Regions from separate parts of the Homo sapiens genome. Here all the other regions are linked to region 1. The links come from fine-mapping of genetic effects on gene expression. A gene starts in region 1. Each other region holds a variant in brackets. All regions are shown on one strand. Distances are between the middles of the regions.

What was found. PIP is the estimated chance that this variant, and not a neighbour inherited with it, causes the effect. A credible set is the group of variants that fine-mapping cannot tell apart.
Region 2: its variant is the best candidate, but not a certain one, in a credible set for the expression of ARIH1 in whole blood (INTERVAL, PIP 0.84).
Region 3: its variant is the best candidate, but not a certain one, in a credible set for the expression of ARIH1 in whole blood (TOPMed, PIP 0.84).

Annotation. Positions count from the first base shown.
Region 1 is chr15:72,471,097-72,476,473 of GRCh38, forward strand. It overlaps ARIH1 (ariadne RBR E3 ubiquitin protein ligase 1), which reads left to right and starts at 3,234. Exons shown (of 14, transcript NM_005744.5): 1 at 3,234-3,918. The coding sequence starts at 3,544. TMEM202-AS1 (TMEM202 antisense RNA 1) reads right to left here and starts at 3,143. Exons shown (of 4, transcript NR_135678.1): 1 at 2,779-3,143. RefSeq lists enhancers at 2,598-2,697, 4,148-4,357 and silencers at 2,938-3,277, 3,129-3,325, 3,368-3,597.
Region 2 is chr15:72,540,005-72,545,381 of GRCh38, forward strand. ARIH1 (ariadne RBR E3 ubiquitin protein ligase 1) reads left to right here. Exons shown (of 14, transcript NM_005744.5): 3 at 4,816-4,960. Among named protein-coding and RNA genes, the nearest start is that of MIR630, 45 kb to the right of the region's middle. RefSeq lists a silencer at 1,000-1,200. The variant G/A (reference allele first, on the strand shown) is at 2,670.
Region 3 is chr15:72,593,958-72,599,334 of GRCh38, forward strand. ARIH1 (ariadne RBR E3 ubiquitin protein ligase 1) reads left to right here. Exons shown (of 14, transcript NM_005744.5): 14 at 1-5,377. Among named protein-coding and RNA genes, the nearest start is that of MIR630, 9.4 kb to the left of the region's middle. The variant GA/G (reference allele first, on the strand shown) is at 3,156.

The DNA.
Region 1 (5,377 bases):
TCAATAACTTTTATCCTCTTCACCTTTATCCTATGCCGCTTCTAAACATTGCTGGTGTAAACTCTGGTAAAATTGTATCTCCAGCTCTAATTTTTCCTGACCTTCAGTCTTGTATCTTAGTTTATGGAACTGCCTACTCAACACCTCTACCCTGATGTCTAACGAGCACCTCAAATAACATGTTTCAGTGAGTGATGCCACCATTCACCCAGTCGCTCAAGCTCCAAATACAGTAGGCATCCTTGTTTCCTCCATCAAACCCACTGTCAAGCCACCAGCAAATATTTTGGCTCTTCTTTCAAATTCTATCTCAATCTGACCACTTCTTATCACCTCCACTGCCACAACCCTAGTTCAGGCTATTATCTACTTACCTGGACTACTGAGATAGCCTCATAATTGCTTTGTTTTCGTAGTCCATTCACCATAAAGCAGTCAGTTATCTTTTTAAAAACACAGATCATATAGTTTCACTCTTCTGCTTAAAACTCGTTAATAATTGCCACTGGAATAATGTAAACTTCTTAAGATGACCTACAAGGCCCCTACTGGCCCCCTACCTTGATCTGCTTTCTCTGACTTTATCCCTTAACACCCTCTTCTTTGCTCAGCATGTCTCAAGTCACATTGGTCCTGATATTTTCAAATTCCTCTGTGACTAAAAGTCACATGTTTTGAGAAGATGTGAAAGGGCAGGGCTGAAGTTTGAGGAAACTGCAAAGGTGTGAAAGAGTTGTCGAGAGTGGGAGAACAATCCAGAAAAATTTAATAGGATTGCTGGGAATTATTGAAGGTTGAGTTGTGCTTGGTGATTGAAATTAAGTAGGCTGGGTGTAGTGGCTCACACCTGTAATCCTAGCATTTTGGGAGGCCAAGGTGGGAGGATTGCTTGAGGCCAGGAGTTCCAGACCAGTCTGAGCAACATAGTGAGATGTATCTGTAAAAAAAAATAAAAAATTAGCCAGGTATGGTGGTGTGCACCTGTAGTACCAGCAACTCAGGAGGCTGAAGTGGGAGGATCACTTGAGCCCGGGACATTGAGCCTTCAGTGGTGATCGCACCACTGCATTCCAGCCTGGGTGCCAGAGCAAGAGTGTCTCCAAAAAAAAAAAAAAAAAGAAGAAATGTAGTAATAGAATACAGATGGCTATGCACATTTCTCTAATAGTGGTCAGCTGCTCCATTTATCAAAGTGGAGACTATGGATGGTAGGGTTCATTCAAGATAGGGGTACAATGAAAAGAAAGGTGAGGCAAAGGAGTTTAGGGTACTGACGAGTGTTACTGAATTTTTCTGTAGGTAATATCACAATGGAGACGGGGTGGACAGAAGTGTTCCTTGTGTCCATGGCTTGCCTTAGTTGTGGCAGCAATCTAGAATTGCTAAATAGAAACACTGAATCAAAGAACCTAGACCTGGCTGGGCGCTGTGGCTTATGCCTGTTATCACAGCACTTTGGGAGGCCGAGGCAGGTGGATCACCTGAAGTCAGGAATTCGAGACCAGCCTGGCCAATATGGTGAAACCCCATCTCTACTAAAAATACAAAAATTAGCCTGGGGTGGTGGCATGCGCCTGTAGTCCCAGCTACTCAGGAGGCTGAGACAGGAGAATCGCTTGAACCTGGGAGGCAGAGGCTGCAGTGAGCTGAGATCACCACTGTACTCCAATCTGGGCAACAGAGCGAGACTCCGTCTCAAGAAAAAAACAAACAACAACAACAACAACAAAAACCTAGACTACCAGTATTGAGGTTAAATGCTTTACTTTGTAAATCCTGAGGTTAAGAAATATAATTATCGGTATTTTAAAACTTACAAAATGGACAAATTGGAAGAGGCTTTTTAACATTATAATGGAATTTTTCACTTTTCAAAATCAATTTCCAAAGGGAACCTATAGGTTGAACAGTAAGATTTATCAACAAATCAGGGGTTTTGATTTTAAAAGGTTTTCAATCTGGCCAATTCTTCAGATTATCTCAAGAGGGAGCCTTCTTATGCCTCTTCTTCCTTCATAACACTTCTCTGGCTCGCATGTCCTGTTTGCAAAGATTTAAGCCCACTCTTAGGCATAAAATGCTCTTAACTGACATGACCCCTGACTAACTTGCCTAATATTTTGCCATGTACCCTCCATGCACTTTAAGCTCCCCAAACTATTACTTACTTGACACCTTCTGCGCTTTTGCTTGTTCTCTGCGGCTAGACCATCTTCCCTACCTTCTCTGTTGAACTCCTAGCCATTCATCAACACTCAGCTCACATAGCACACTTTCAGATGAGATTCAAGCATTATCTCTCTGGCTACATTTGGCCCTTGTAGATATTTCTATTATTGCCTGTATTTTGTTGAAGCATTCATGTCTTTTATGTACTACATAGTACATAATATATCTACATTACAAAGCATTTTTATGATTCATGTTTTGGGGCATCCAGCGGTTAAAATAGGGCAAGGGTTATGTGGTCTTGGCCAGGTCCCTTTTCCTTTCTGAGCTTCAGGTTCCTCAGGTATAAAATGGGTACTATGGCTCCGTGAAGATGAGACAGAATATATGTAAAGCCCTTACACAGTGCTCAATTCATGAAAATCATCGCTGTTTACATTGTTTAGGGCCCTCAAGAGGCGCTCTTGTCAGCGGGGTGGAGGAAATGCCTCTTTAAAATGACGTCATTATAGGAGACTTAAAAACCACTGCACGTCTGTACAAGTGGACAGAATCACACAGCTACCTAAAGTGGGTTCACCTGTCATACAGTTTAGAGGTTCCACTTACAACAGGTTTCCATCAGTAGCCAAAGCAACAGAAATTTTAGCTTAACGGCTGAGGGCTTCCGGGATTACCGCAGGGCGGGCGGGAAGCGCCTTTCCGCTCCGGAGGGAAGGCCGCGTCCCCAAGGGACTGCCTAAGTGGGCTGGATCCCTATGGCCTGCGGCAGACACCACCACGTAGGCGGTCCAGGGGTCCCTCTCTCGGTGACTGGTGACCAGGAGGCCGCAATCTCTTCACATAAAAGGTCTACGGGTTTCCGCTCGGCCCTCACAGCGGCAGCGGATCGAACCAGGAAAGCAATTCCCGCTCGGCTCCCCTCGGGTCCCAGGCCCAGGAAGGCCGGGCCGTGGGGTCTCCCCGGGCTCCACGCAGGGGCGGTGGGGCGGGGCGCAGTGACGCAAAGAGGAGTGACGCGACGACGCAGCGCGACGCGGTGACGCACGCCCCTTTGTTGGCTCAGTAGCGATAGCAGCGGCCGTGGAGGTGGCGTTGGGGACTGTTTTCTCTCGGAGGCCGGAGCGGAGCCGCGTCTGACTGAGGCGGGCAGCAAGCGGCCCCCTCGCTCCCTCCCTCCCTCCTCCGCGCCCTCCCCGCCGCCACCAGCCGTCAAACGCCAACCGCCGCTCCTGGGGAGGAGCCGCGGCTCGCGGGGCCGGAGCCAGGCCTGCGTCCGGACATCAGCCGGAGCCGGAGCGAGAGCCGGGGCCTCGGCGTCCCCGCCCTCTCCCCGCCTCGGCCAGCGTCCGCCGGGCCCCCGCGCGTCGCGCCATGGACTCGGACGAGGGCTACAACTACGAGTTCGACGAGGACGAGGAGTGCAGTGAGGAGGACAGCGGCGCCGAGGAGGAGGAGGACGAAGACGACGACGAGCCGGACGATGATACCCTGGATCTGGGCGAGGTGGAGCTGGTGGAGCCCGGGCTGGGCGTCGGCGGGGAGCGGGACGGACTGCTGTGCGGGGAGACGGGCGGTGGCGGCGGCAGCGCTCTGGGGCCCGGCGGTGGCGGCGGCGGCGGCGGCGGCGGTGGTGGTGGCGGGCCGGGGCATGAGCAGGAGGAGGATTACCGCTACGAGGTGCTCACGGCCGAGCAGATTCTACAACACATGGTGGAATGTATCCGGGAGGTCAACGAGGTCATCCAGGTGAGGGTGGCCGCCGCGCCAGCTGGACCGGGCCCGACGGGGGAGCGGATTCAGGCGGCACGCGCGGTCCCGAGGGACAGGCCTGGGCCTGGTGCGCAGCCTAGCCCGGTGCCTCCCGGCCTTGTCTTCTCCGCTGCCTCTGCTGGGGATAGAGGGTGTCGAAAGCAGAGGTTCGCCGATTAGCCGGGTGTGGGGAGGTGCGCTGGGGGCGGTGCTTCCCAAGTCCTGCTATGGCGGAGGCCTTCGGTCGCCTAAGCCTTCTCTTGCGGGCAATTTCTGCCAGTCCCTGGGCCGGGTGTCCTTTCTCTGGCCGGGCGATCGCCTACTGGGGCGGGGCGGAGGAGGTGGGGTGGAGAAGAGGAGTCAGGAAGAATTGGGCCCTGACGGGACTTACCCCGGCCGTAGCCTCATTTGAGCACTTTTGGAAGGGATTAGAGTAGGCCTAAGAGCAGCTTGGTGTACAGTTGCCCCAAGTGGGCACCAGTTAATAAAGAAATGGATCTTGGCAGTCTCAAGTGCCTACTTAAAGGTGGGGGAAGGGAAGTATTTCTCGGAAGAGGTGCTGATGGGCCTTCTTTTCAGATGGTGAGGCTTCTGCTTACATCTTTTTTATGTCTTTGCTGTTTGGGACCTAATTGCTACTTTTTCTAGTCGTAGCAGATGACTTGCTTGAAGCTGTTGGAATAGTTACTGCATATTGCATACCCTTCCTTGTAGCTAAAACAACAACAAAACGCAGTGTTGTCTAATATTGGACAAGACTCTATTGTGAGTTAGAAAGCAGAGGTTTTCTGCTTGTGAACTCCTTTCTCTGATATTTTCTATTTTGTGGTAAGTTAGGCTTGGTGTAAGTTGATAACCACATCTCATTTAACCATGTGCGTCAGATTTTGCATTTTTGAGCTTTAGAAACTCAAAAGTTTTCATTTGGGGAAAAAAAAAACCTCAGTTCTCCTGAGGAGTCAGGGATATGGCTGAAGAATAAAAATGAAGCTTGATTCAGTGCAATTTTTAGAAAACCTGGAAGGAAACATATATGAGCAGCAAGTTACTATTGCCTCTTTTATCAGTATTATTTCTTTTTTGTTTAACTTAAATTGGTTGGCTAAATATTCATTGACAAATTAGAAGTATGTCACTGTCAACTCGTTGACTTTCTATTATTAACTGATTTTTATAGTATTATAAGTAACAGTTTTAAAAATTGAAGCATCTATTCAGGCACTGTTTCAATACAGTGTTTTGCATAATAGAAAAATCTCTGATATCTAGTGCCATTACTAAATAGTGGAAGTCTTCATTTTTAATCTAGAGAACACAGTCTAAGAAGGAAGTTGAGGATTGTAGAAGATAATTTTTTGTTTGTTTGAGACGGAGTCTTGCTTTGTCGCCCAGGCTGGAGTGCAATGGCGCAATCTCTGCTCACTGCAACCTCCGCCTGCCGGGTTCATGCAATTCT
Region 2 (5,377 bases), 69 kb after region 1:
ATCCCAGCACTTTGGGAGGCTGAGGCGGGCAGATTACAAGGTCAGGAGTTCGAGACCAGCCTAAACAATATGGTGAAACTCTGTCTCCACTAAAAATACAAAAATTAGCTGGGCGTGGTGGCAGGCGCCTGTAGTCCCAGGTACTTGGGAGGCTGAGGCAGGAGAATCGGTTGAACCTGGGAGGCGGAGGTTGCAGTGAGCCGAGATTGCACCATTGTACTCCAGCCTGGGTGACAAGAGCGAGACTTTGTCTCAAAAAAAAAAAAAAAAAAAAAAAATTAGTGAAAAAATTATATAAAACTGTAATCAACTGGGAAGAGCTTTAGGAAGTTCTGACCAAAACCAAAGGGATGATCAATGTATTATTTAAGTTTTATAAATTAAGAAATGTATTTAAGTATTAATTACATAGGCCACTCCTAGTAAAACTAAATTAGATTTTAGTAATTTCCAAATAAACATTGTGGAGTCAGGGGTGAATGGACCATATAATAAATACAGATCAGAACAAATACATGAAACTTTGGTAAAAGAAAAAGATTTCTGGGCCTACTACCCCCAAGAATATGAGTGGATTTTTAGCTTCCCACTCATATTTCATTTAAAATACTTAGCAGTATTTGAAAGTTCCTTTGGTGGCTTCTAGAATGGATCAAAAAGCTATAAACTCCAAGCCACATGTAGTGGTGTGCACGTATAGTCCCACCTATACTCAAGAAGGTGAGGCGAGAGGATCTCTTGAGGCCAAGAGTTCAAGGCTGTATGCTATTATTGCATATGTGAAAAACTGCTGTGCACCAGCCTGGGCAACATAGTGAGACCCTAACTCATTTTTTTTAAAAAAGGTATTAACTCCAATATACGCTATTTTTAAAAATGCTGCAAACTCCAGTACATGCTATCTAAAGCACAGGAATTCAGATTGATAGTAAAAGTGTTGATGTGATCGGACCCAACACCAGGCTGTGGGGGCGACAAAGTCCAGCGGAGTCAAAGGAATGAGAAAAGACAAGAGACAAAGTGGGACCAGGGGGCCAACGCTAGTATGGAGGCTGCGAAGGCCTGGAGCTCTGGGAGCCCACGCTATTTATTGGTGATCAAACAAAGAAACAGGTGGTGAGGATGTGGGGGTTAAAAGGAAGCGGTGTATCAAGCGAATGAGCTACAGCTGTGAGGGTTTAGCATTTTCTTTGAAACATATGGCTAGTTGAGATAATGGGAGTGCTAGAAGTAAGGAGCCAGCAGTCTAGCAGGCATGCAAGCCCTGCCTCAGCTTCTCTCCCGACACTCAGCTTTTCTCCCAACAAAAAGAACTTGAAATACCTGAGAATAAAGTTACTGGAAGATGTGCAGGATCCACATAGTGAAAAAAAGTTATAAAACTATTGAGAGACTGAATAGGAATTGGAATTAAGTAAATTAAAAGATACTTTGTTCTTGGCTAGGAAGACAATATTATAGAGTCAATTCTTTCAGTCAGTTTACTCTTGATATAATTGTAGTAAAAGTTCCAAGAGGATTTGAAAAAAAAATTAATGATTGTACTTAACTTGAAAAAACAAATATGGAAGAACAGAGAAAATTCTGTGAGAAGAATGATAAAGGGATCTTTGTCAAATATTGAGAATTTATCGACTACAAGAGCAGACAAATTAGTGGAATAGAATGGAGAGTCCAGGAATAAACTTGTCTAAATAGGAAATTTGGGTATATAGTGAACAGATCAGTGGGGAGAGTTAGATTAGTCAGTTACTCTTTAAGAAGAAACTAAGTGCTTGTAACATGCCTGTAGACATTAAGGGCTCCAGGAATAATAAAGTAGTCCTCATGGGGTTTACATTCTAGCAGAGCAAACATAAAGAGTGATTACAGTTAGTAATGTTGTAAGTGCTGCAAAGGACTGCAGAGTAACAATGGGATGTAATTCAAGGGAACCTTATCTAATGGGGGTGGAAGTGAGGAGCTGTCAGAGATCAGTTATTTGAGGAAGCTGGGTGTAAGCTGGAACCTAAAGGTGGGAAAAAGTGTTTCCAATAGATGAAACAACCCTTCAATAAGTGATTAGATTTTTGGATTGAAATGAAATGGAATCCTGGCTTTACTCCTTATTACGCAAAAATAAATCAACAGTTTTAATGGAAACAATTTAAAGGTGAGATCTAAATCATTAATGAATTTCCATTAAAAAATCTTTGGGTATAGAGGTCTTTTAAAGTGTGATATGAACTGCAGAAATCACAGTGGAGTAGCACGATAAATGTGCCTACATAAAAATTTTAAAGTGGTAATTAAACACTATTAAAGAAGGTTGAAAGACAAGAAAGAAATGAAAGAAAGCAACCCATGAAACAAAGATTTACTCTTCCTCTTTGCATACTGAACTTAATAGGGAATAAGATCACCACAGAAAAATGTGTTCACCTTCACTAATAAATAAATAAATACAAGTTAAGTCTAGGTATTTTTCCCTATCTGATGGGCTAAGATTTTAATCTAGGATTATTTATATGTGGCACATTTAAATGTCCTTCAGAATAACATTGGTTGGATATATTATAGTAAATAACTACAGTGGAATATTGTGCAAAAATGAAAAATGTAGACATTTAAAGACAAAGGTGTCTGTTAGATATTGTCTAGTGAAAAAAGCAGGTTATAAATCTGGACTA[G/A]GGTGTTACTTATATGAAATTAGGGACACATGTCTGTGTGGCTGTATACTCATAGAATGCTGTCTAGAATGTTAACCAAAGTATGAGAGTCATTAGTTCCCTGTTGTCAAATTTTGGATGACAGAAGTTTGTCTTGTCTTGGGAGCATGAATATTTTTATAAAACAAGGTGTTTAGCTGGTTTATGAATTGATATTTAGTGTTAATCTCTTATGCTTTCAGTTTTTCAGGTAAAACTTGGTATTTTATATTATCTTTTTTTTTTTTTTTAAATTTGAGACAGTCTCGCTCTGTCACCCAGGCTAGAGTGCAGTGCAGTGGCACCATCTTGGCTCACTGCAACCTTGCCTCCTGGATTCAAGCGGTTCTCATGCCTCACCCTCCTGAGTAGCTGGGATTAGAGGCACCTGCCACCGCGCCCAGCTAATTTTTTTGTATTTTTAGTAGAGATGGGGTTTCACCATGTTGGCCAGGCTGGTTTTGAACTACTGACCTCAAGTGATCCACCCACCTCAGCATCCCAAAGTGCTGGGATTGCAGGTGTGAGCCACCGCGGCGCCTGTAATCCCAGCTACTCGGGAGGCTGAGGCAGTAGAATCGCTTGAACCTGGGCGGCAAAGGTTGCAGGGAGCCGAGATGGCGCCACTGCACTCCAGTCTGGGCGACAGAGTGAGACTGTCTCAAAATTGTAGGAAAGCATTTGATTTTCTGCTTTAAATATATTCTGATTATCTGAATCATCAGAGACATTAATTTTCTATTTGTATGAGTTCCTGACAACTTTTAACTTTCTGATAATCCTCCTTTTTATAATGTGTTGGCATTTCGATTGATAATATGATTATTTCATTGAACTATGCTGTAGTCAAAGTATTTATAAAAAAGATATTTATTTATTAGTCTTAGGAGAAGTGATATGGTTTGTTCTCATTTGAATGATTTTTCTGGAGGTACAGTAAGATATAGTAGCCTTTGACACAAAGCCTAAACAAGACCTTAATTAAAAATATTGGAAATTTCTTTTGAGTATTGATTACTTTTAAAATTGAAAATCTCCTGTTTGTATATAAAGAGCATTATAGTTACTGTAATCTGGGCTTTACAACCCAAAAAGTAATTGACCAGATTGCACATTAATATTTTTGCTGGTTATATTGGTTTTACAGATTGAAAAGTTTTTTTTTTTTTAATATCTATTGCTTTTCCCTTTTGAATAGTAAGCTGTTTCAGGAGGCCAGGGAACATGTCTCATCTGAATTAATTGGAAACATTGTGCTAAGTATTTACTGTTATCTTAACCACCTCAACCCACCTTAAGGTCTGCTCTACTATCTTCTGTCCAGAGGTTTGCTATTTAGTTAAAACTCTAGGTAGTACTTGGCATATATATACTCTTGATGTCTTAGATATGGAACTACTCTATATTTAGATACATATTTTATGAAAAGCTAATATGTAATTTATTTTATATAAAATGTTTGAAGATACACTTCTTTGTTTTATTCCTCCTCCTTTCTCAGTAAATTAAAAATATTTCAAAATAATGTTTAGAAAGCAAGTCTATTATGTAAAATGAGACACGTAATAATTATATTTTTAAGATGATTTGTGCAGTAAGATAAATGCTTTACTGAAGCTAATATGTTTAAATTGCTTTAACTAAAATTATTAATAAAATGAATTCATTTGTATAAAATACAGCCTACCCATGTAAAATATTACTCTTCATAGGTACCCCAGCAACAGCACAACTTTAATCCTTAAGTTTTAGTTGCAGTACTGTTAAAATACTAATAGCTTAATTTCCCAAGATTCAGTTATTTAAAACCAAAGTTTAGGGGGAAAAAGGCAGCAAAACTCAGTCTACTAGTTTACATACATACACACACACACACACACACTCATATATATGAGAGTAGACTGAATTTTTGCTGTTTGCAATATATATATATATGCACATGTATACACACACCTTTATTTGCTATAATTTGTACCATGTAGCTTTTATTTCCTCTGAATAAAAAGGTTGTTATCTTGTTTTATTTTAATTCAACTTCTTGCTTTTCCCTATAGAAAGTCAGGTTTTTGGAGAGCTCTAACAGTGTGCAAGTTGCTGGGCTCTTATCCTTTCTGTTTAAATAATGCAGGTACTTTGATGGAAACCTGGAGAAGCTCTTTGCTGAGTGTCATGTAATTAATCCAAGTAAAAAGTCTCGAACACGCCAGATGAATACAAGGTCATCAGCACAGGATATGCCTTGTCAGATCTGCTACTTGAACTACCCTAACTCGGTGAGTATCTGGTAGTTTAAGGCTAGTGCTGACTTTGTATTTCAGAGGGTAAATCAACTTCCATTATTTAAACAAAGGAAAATTTGTGGGTCTGGGAGTAGTAACCTCTAAGCCATAACCTATCAATGTATTCAGTGTGAGGAAAGGAAGAAAAAGAGTAAAAGCTTGGTTCCTCTTACCTCCAACCCCCATTTGTTTTTTAAAGCAGCAACAACTTGTCCAAGTTGTCATTTATAGACCTAAATCTTTCTGGAGTTTATTCTATCACCATGGGAGAATTGTGTAATAGTAGGCAGTAAGTAGAATTCTTTCTCATCCAAATTAAAATAGATTTAAACTTTAAGTGTTTTTTAAATATCCAGAAACACTCATAAAATACCGTTAATACTATTTGCTAGGGAACTCTCAGAATTCTTC
Region 3 (5,377 bases), 120 kb after region 1:
GAGTCTATAGGTCAATTTAGAATGAACATTTTAATAGTATTGAGTCAGCTAATTCATGAACATATTAAGTCTTGTCATTTATTTAGGTATTAAATTTTTTTCTCAGCAATGTTTTGTAGCTTCCCTTGCGTAACACTTGCTTATCTTACATTAGACTTTTTCTTAAGCATTTGATTTTTAAAATATTTTTGATTTTCTTTTCTTTTTCTTTTTTTCTTTTTTTTTTTTTGAGACGGAGTTTTGCTCTTGTTGGCTAGGCTGGAGTGCAGTGGCGCGATCTTGGCTCACTGCAACCTCCGCCTCCCGGGTTCAAGCAATTCTCCTGCCTCAGCCTTTTGAGTAGCTGGGATTATAGGCACACACCATCATGCCTGGCTAATTTTTGTATTTTTAGTACAGACGGGGTTTCACCATGTTGGTCAGCCTGGTCTCGAGCTCCTGACCTCGTGATCCAACCACCTTGGCCTCCCAAAGTGCTGCCATTACAGGCGTGAGCCACCGCGCCTGGCTAATTTTCATTTTTAAGTTGTTTGCTGCTAGTATCTAGAAATACAATTGATTTTTTGTTTGTTTCTTTAGAGATGGGTCTCACTATGTTGCCCAGGTTGGTCTTAAACTCCTGAGCTCAAGGGATTCTCATGCCTCAGCCACCCAAGTAGCTGGGACTTTATTCACGTGCCAGTGTGCCTGGCTGATTTTTGTATGCTGATCTTGAATCGTGCCACCTTGCTAAATTCATTTATTCTAGAAATAGTTCTTGTAGACTCCGTAGAGTTTTATATTAAATAGATACACAACAGTGTAGTCTGCAAATAATGTTTTTACTTCTTTTTCTGATTTTATGCCTTTTCTTCTTTTTTTTTTTTTTTTTTTTTTTTTTTGTCTTTCTCCACTGGCTACAATATCTAGTGCAATGTTTAACGTGTGGTGAGAGCAGACACCTTGCCTTGTTTTCTTAATCTTAGGGATAAAGATTTTAATGTTTCATCACTAAGTATAATGTTAACTGTAAGTTTTTCACAGACCAGCCCAAAGAAGTTCCTTTCTATTCCTAATTTGTTGATAATTTTTATTAGGAAGGGTTATTAAATTTTGTGAGATGCGTTTTTAGCTTTTAATAAGATTATTATGTATTTCTCTTTTTATTTTGTTAAGATGGTATGTTACAGGGGTTGGCAAACTGTGGCCCATGGGCCAGATCCAGCCCATGGACAGTTTTGTTGTTGCTGTTTTAGAGACAGTCTCACTCTTTTGCTCAGGCTGCCAGGCTGGAGTGCAATGACATGATCATAGCTCACTGCAGCCTTGAGCTCCTGGACTCAAGCGACCCTCCTGCCTCAGCCTCCTGAGTAGCTAGGAATACAGGTGCATGTCACCACACCAGGCAAATTTAAGAAATTTTTTGTAGATCTTGCCGTGTTGCCCATGATGGTCTCAAACTCCTGGCCTCAAGCAATCCTCCTGCCTTGGCCTCCTACAGTGCTGGGATTAGAGGTGTGAGCCACCACACTTGGCTCTCATGGACTGTTTTTGTTTTTGTTTTGAGACAGGGTCTCTGTCACGCAGGCTGGAGTGTGGTGGCATGAACGTGGCTCACTGCAGCCTCAACTTTCTTGGCTCCAGCAATCATCCTGCCTCAGCCTCCCGAGTAGCTGGGACCACAGGTGTGCGCTACCACAGCTGGCTAATTTTTCTTTTTCATTTTTGTAGACATGGAGTCTTGATATGTTGCCCAGATTGATCTGGAACTGCTAGGCTCAAGTGATCTTCCTGCCTTGCACTCCCGAAGTGTTGGCATTACAGGCATGAGACACAGTGCCCAGCCTATTGCAGTGTTTTTTGTTTTTTCTGTTTTTTTTTTTTTTTTTTCATCTTTGTTTTTGTTTTTTTGAGACTGAGTCTTGCTCTATCTCCCAGGCTGTGGTGCAGTGGTGCAATCTGCAACCTCCGCCTCCCAGGTTTAAGCGATTCTCCTGCCTCAGCCTCCCAAGTAAGTGGGATTATAGGCACATGTCACCAAGCTCAGCTAACTTTTATATTTTTAGTAGAAACGGGGTTTCACCATATTGGCCAGGCTGGTCTTGAACTCCTGGCCTCAGGTGATCTGCCCACCTTGGCCTCCCAAAGTGCTGGGATTACAGGTCACTAGGCGTAGTAGGGCTACTACGCCTGGCCCTACTGCAGTTTTTAATAAGAGATGAGTTCTCTCAGCTTTTGTCTATAAGAGAATGTCCTTACTTTTATTTTTGAGGGGTATTTTAGTTGGATATAGGACTCTATGTTGACCTTTTATTTCTTCTTTCAGTACTTTAAAGAAGTTATTTTATTGTACTCAGGCCTCATTTGTTTCTGGTGAGAAGTCATTCATCATTTTAATTTTTATTTCCTTTCCGTAATGTGTGGTTGTTCTCAATGGCTGCATCTGTGCATTATATTTACTTTTCAGTAGATTGACTAGGGAATGTCTAGGTATGTTTTTCTTTGTATAGAGTTTACTGAACTTCTTGGATCTGTGTTGATGTCTTTCATTAATATTGGTTCTTTCTTGGCCGTTATCCGTTTACATTTTTCTCTTGTCTCATACTCTCTTGCTTCTCCTCTTCTTTGGAGATTCTAGTTACATGTATATTAGATGATTTGATATAAACCTACAGATCTCAGATGATTTTTCCCCTGCCCTGTTTTCTTTTTGTTTTCAGTTTGGATACTTTCCATTTAACCATCTTTAAGTTTTTTGATGCTTTCCAATGTTAACCTGTTAAACTTGTTTATTGAATTCTCCATTTAAAAATTTTTATTTTTAGTTATTTATGGATACATAGTTGTACTGAATTATTCATTTCTAATATTTTTATTTCTAGCATTTCATTATATTTGTATAGTTACAATTTTCTGCTGAAATTTCCTATTTCTTCATGCATGTTTTCCACATTTTCCATTCTACTTTTTAGCATTTTAATCAGTTATTTTATTGGGTTTTTTCTGTTTTTTCTTTCATTTTTAATCAGTTATTTTAAGGATCCAAACTGATAATTCAACATCTGGGTCTTTTCTAGTTCTGCTTCTATTGAGCCCTTCCTCTCCCTTACCATGAATCTTATTTTCTTGCTTTTGCACGTCTTGTATATTTGATTGGATGATGGACGTTTTATGTT[GA/G]AAAAAAAAAGAAATTGAAGAAAATGTTTACTTCCAAAACAGAGCATGCCCTTTGTTTTTTTTTCAGGCCACTTGAATGGTGGCTCAATCTGATGTATATGAATTCTAGACTGGGGCTTCACTGCAGTTTTAGTTTGATTCAGTTTGCCTCTAGCTTCAAATATTTGAAGGAACGTAGAATCAGAACTCTCATATCACCAGGGCCTGAGTTTTGGGCATTGGCAAGATTCCAGAGATCTGACTTTGCTTCATAGCTAAGCCACCAGCTTTTATCAATGTGGGAGATCTTTCCCTACTTTACAACCTTGCTGCCAGGATTTTTTTTTTTAATCAATGGGCTGGGGATAGGAGGATCTTTCTCAGCTCTCATGTGTGCCCTGCCCTTTTGTAGAGGAATGCCCACAATGCCTAGGGGATGGGTTTCTCAGCATTTCTGACCCCATTTAGGCTCCAAGAGTGCCTCTGTTGGATTTCACAACAATCCTGCCTCCCCTTTCATTTTTAAAGGGTATTTTGCCCTTGGGAGAAGTCAAGCTCTCTCAGCGTTCCTTCTATTATCCACACCTTTAGTGTACTACACCTTCCTGTACCTGGTTATCATCTAAGGGGTAAGATTGGTGGGAAGCCTTCCTCTGTGGATTTGGGTCATCTAGGTTCTAATGTCAAACCAGCCTCCAAGGGGTTGTGAAAATGTTGTTAAATTTCAGCAGGTTTCTCTTTTCTCCCCCCTGTAGTATTCCTCTTCCTACCATAGTTCAACTAGGAATAACAACAGCTAGGGGGTCTCTTCTCTCCTATGAAGGACTTGGCACTTTCTGGAGTTTGGATCATTTAGGTTTCTTTGGTTTTTGTTTTTATTTTGAGACAGGGTCTCACTCTTACCCAGCCTGGAGTACAGCCTGTAGTGATCTCAGCTCACTACAACCTCTGCCTTCCTGGCTCAGTTGATCCTCCCACCTCAGCCTCCTGAGCAGCTGGGACTACAGGCGTGTACCACCACACCCGGCTAATTTTTGTATTTTTTGTTGAGATAGGGTTTTACCATGTTGCCCAGGCTGATCTCAAACTTCTGAGCTCAAGCGATCTGCCTGCCTCAGCACCCCAAAGTCCTGGGGTTACAGGCATAAACCACTGCACCCAACCTAGATTTCTTTGTGTCCTTAGCTTTCTGATGAATTAAACATATGTTTTATTTTCTAGCTCATCTGGCCTTTTGTTGTTGTTTGCTAGAGTGGGAGGTATATTCCTTGTGACTTTGTTCATATCACTAGTGAATTTCAGAAGTAGGAGTTTATTTTTTTAATAAAAAATTTTTTTAGGTCAGGCACAGTGTCTCATGCCTGTAATCCCAGCACTTTGGGAGGCCGAGGCAGGTGGATCACCTGAGATCAGGAGTTTGAGACCAGCCTGGCCAACATAGTGAAACCCCAACTCTACTAAAAATACTAAAATTAGCCAGGTGTGGTGGTGGGCGCCTGTAATCCCAGCTACTTGAGAGACTGAGTCAGGAGATTTGCTTGAACCTGGGAGGCGGAGGTTGCAGTGAGCCGAGATTGTGCCACTGCACTCCAGCCTGGGTGACAGAGCAAGACTCCCTCTCAAAAAAAAAAAAAAAAATTTTTTTTTAAACACGTCTCACTGCCACCCAGGCTTGAGTGCCATGACATGATCATAGCTCACTGCTGGCTTGACCTTCTGGGCTCAAGTGATCCTCTTGCCTCAGCCTCTTGAGTAGCTGGGACCACAGTCATGTGCCACCATGCCTGGCTTTTTTTTTTTTGTAGAGTTTGGGTCTCGCTATGTTGCCTGTGATCCTCCCACCTTGGTTTTCCAAAGTGCTGGGATTAAAGGCATGAGCCACCATGCCTGGTTAGGAATGGGAGTTTAAACAATGGTTTTATTTACATATTTCATTAGCTAGTATTTTTTTCTTTTTTGAGACAGAGTCTGGCTCTGTTGCCCAGGCTGGAGTGCAGTGGCACGATCTAGGCTCATTGCAACCTCTGCCTCGTGATTCTCGTGACTCAGCCTCCTGAGTAGCTGGGATTACAGGCGCCCGCCACCACACCCAGCTAATTTTTGTATTTTTAGTAGAGACAGGGTTTCACCATGTTGGCCAGGTTGGTCTCCAACTCCTGACCTCAGTTGATCCACCCGCCTCAGCCTCCCAAAGTGCTGGGATTACAGGTGTGAGCCATCGCTCCTGGCCTCATTAACTGTT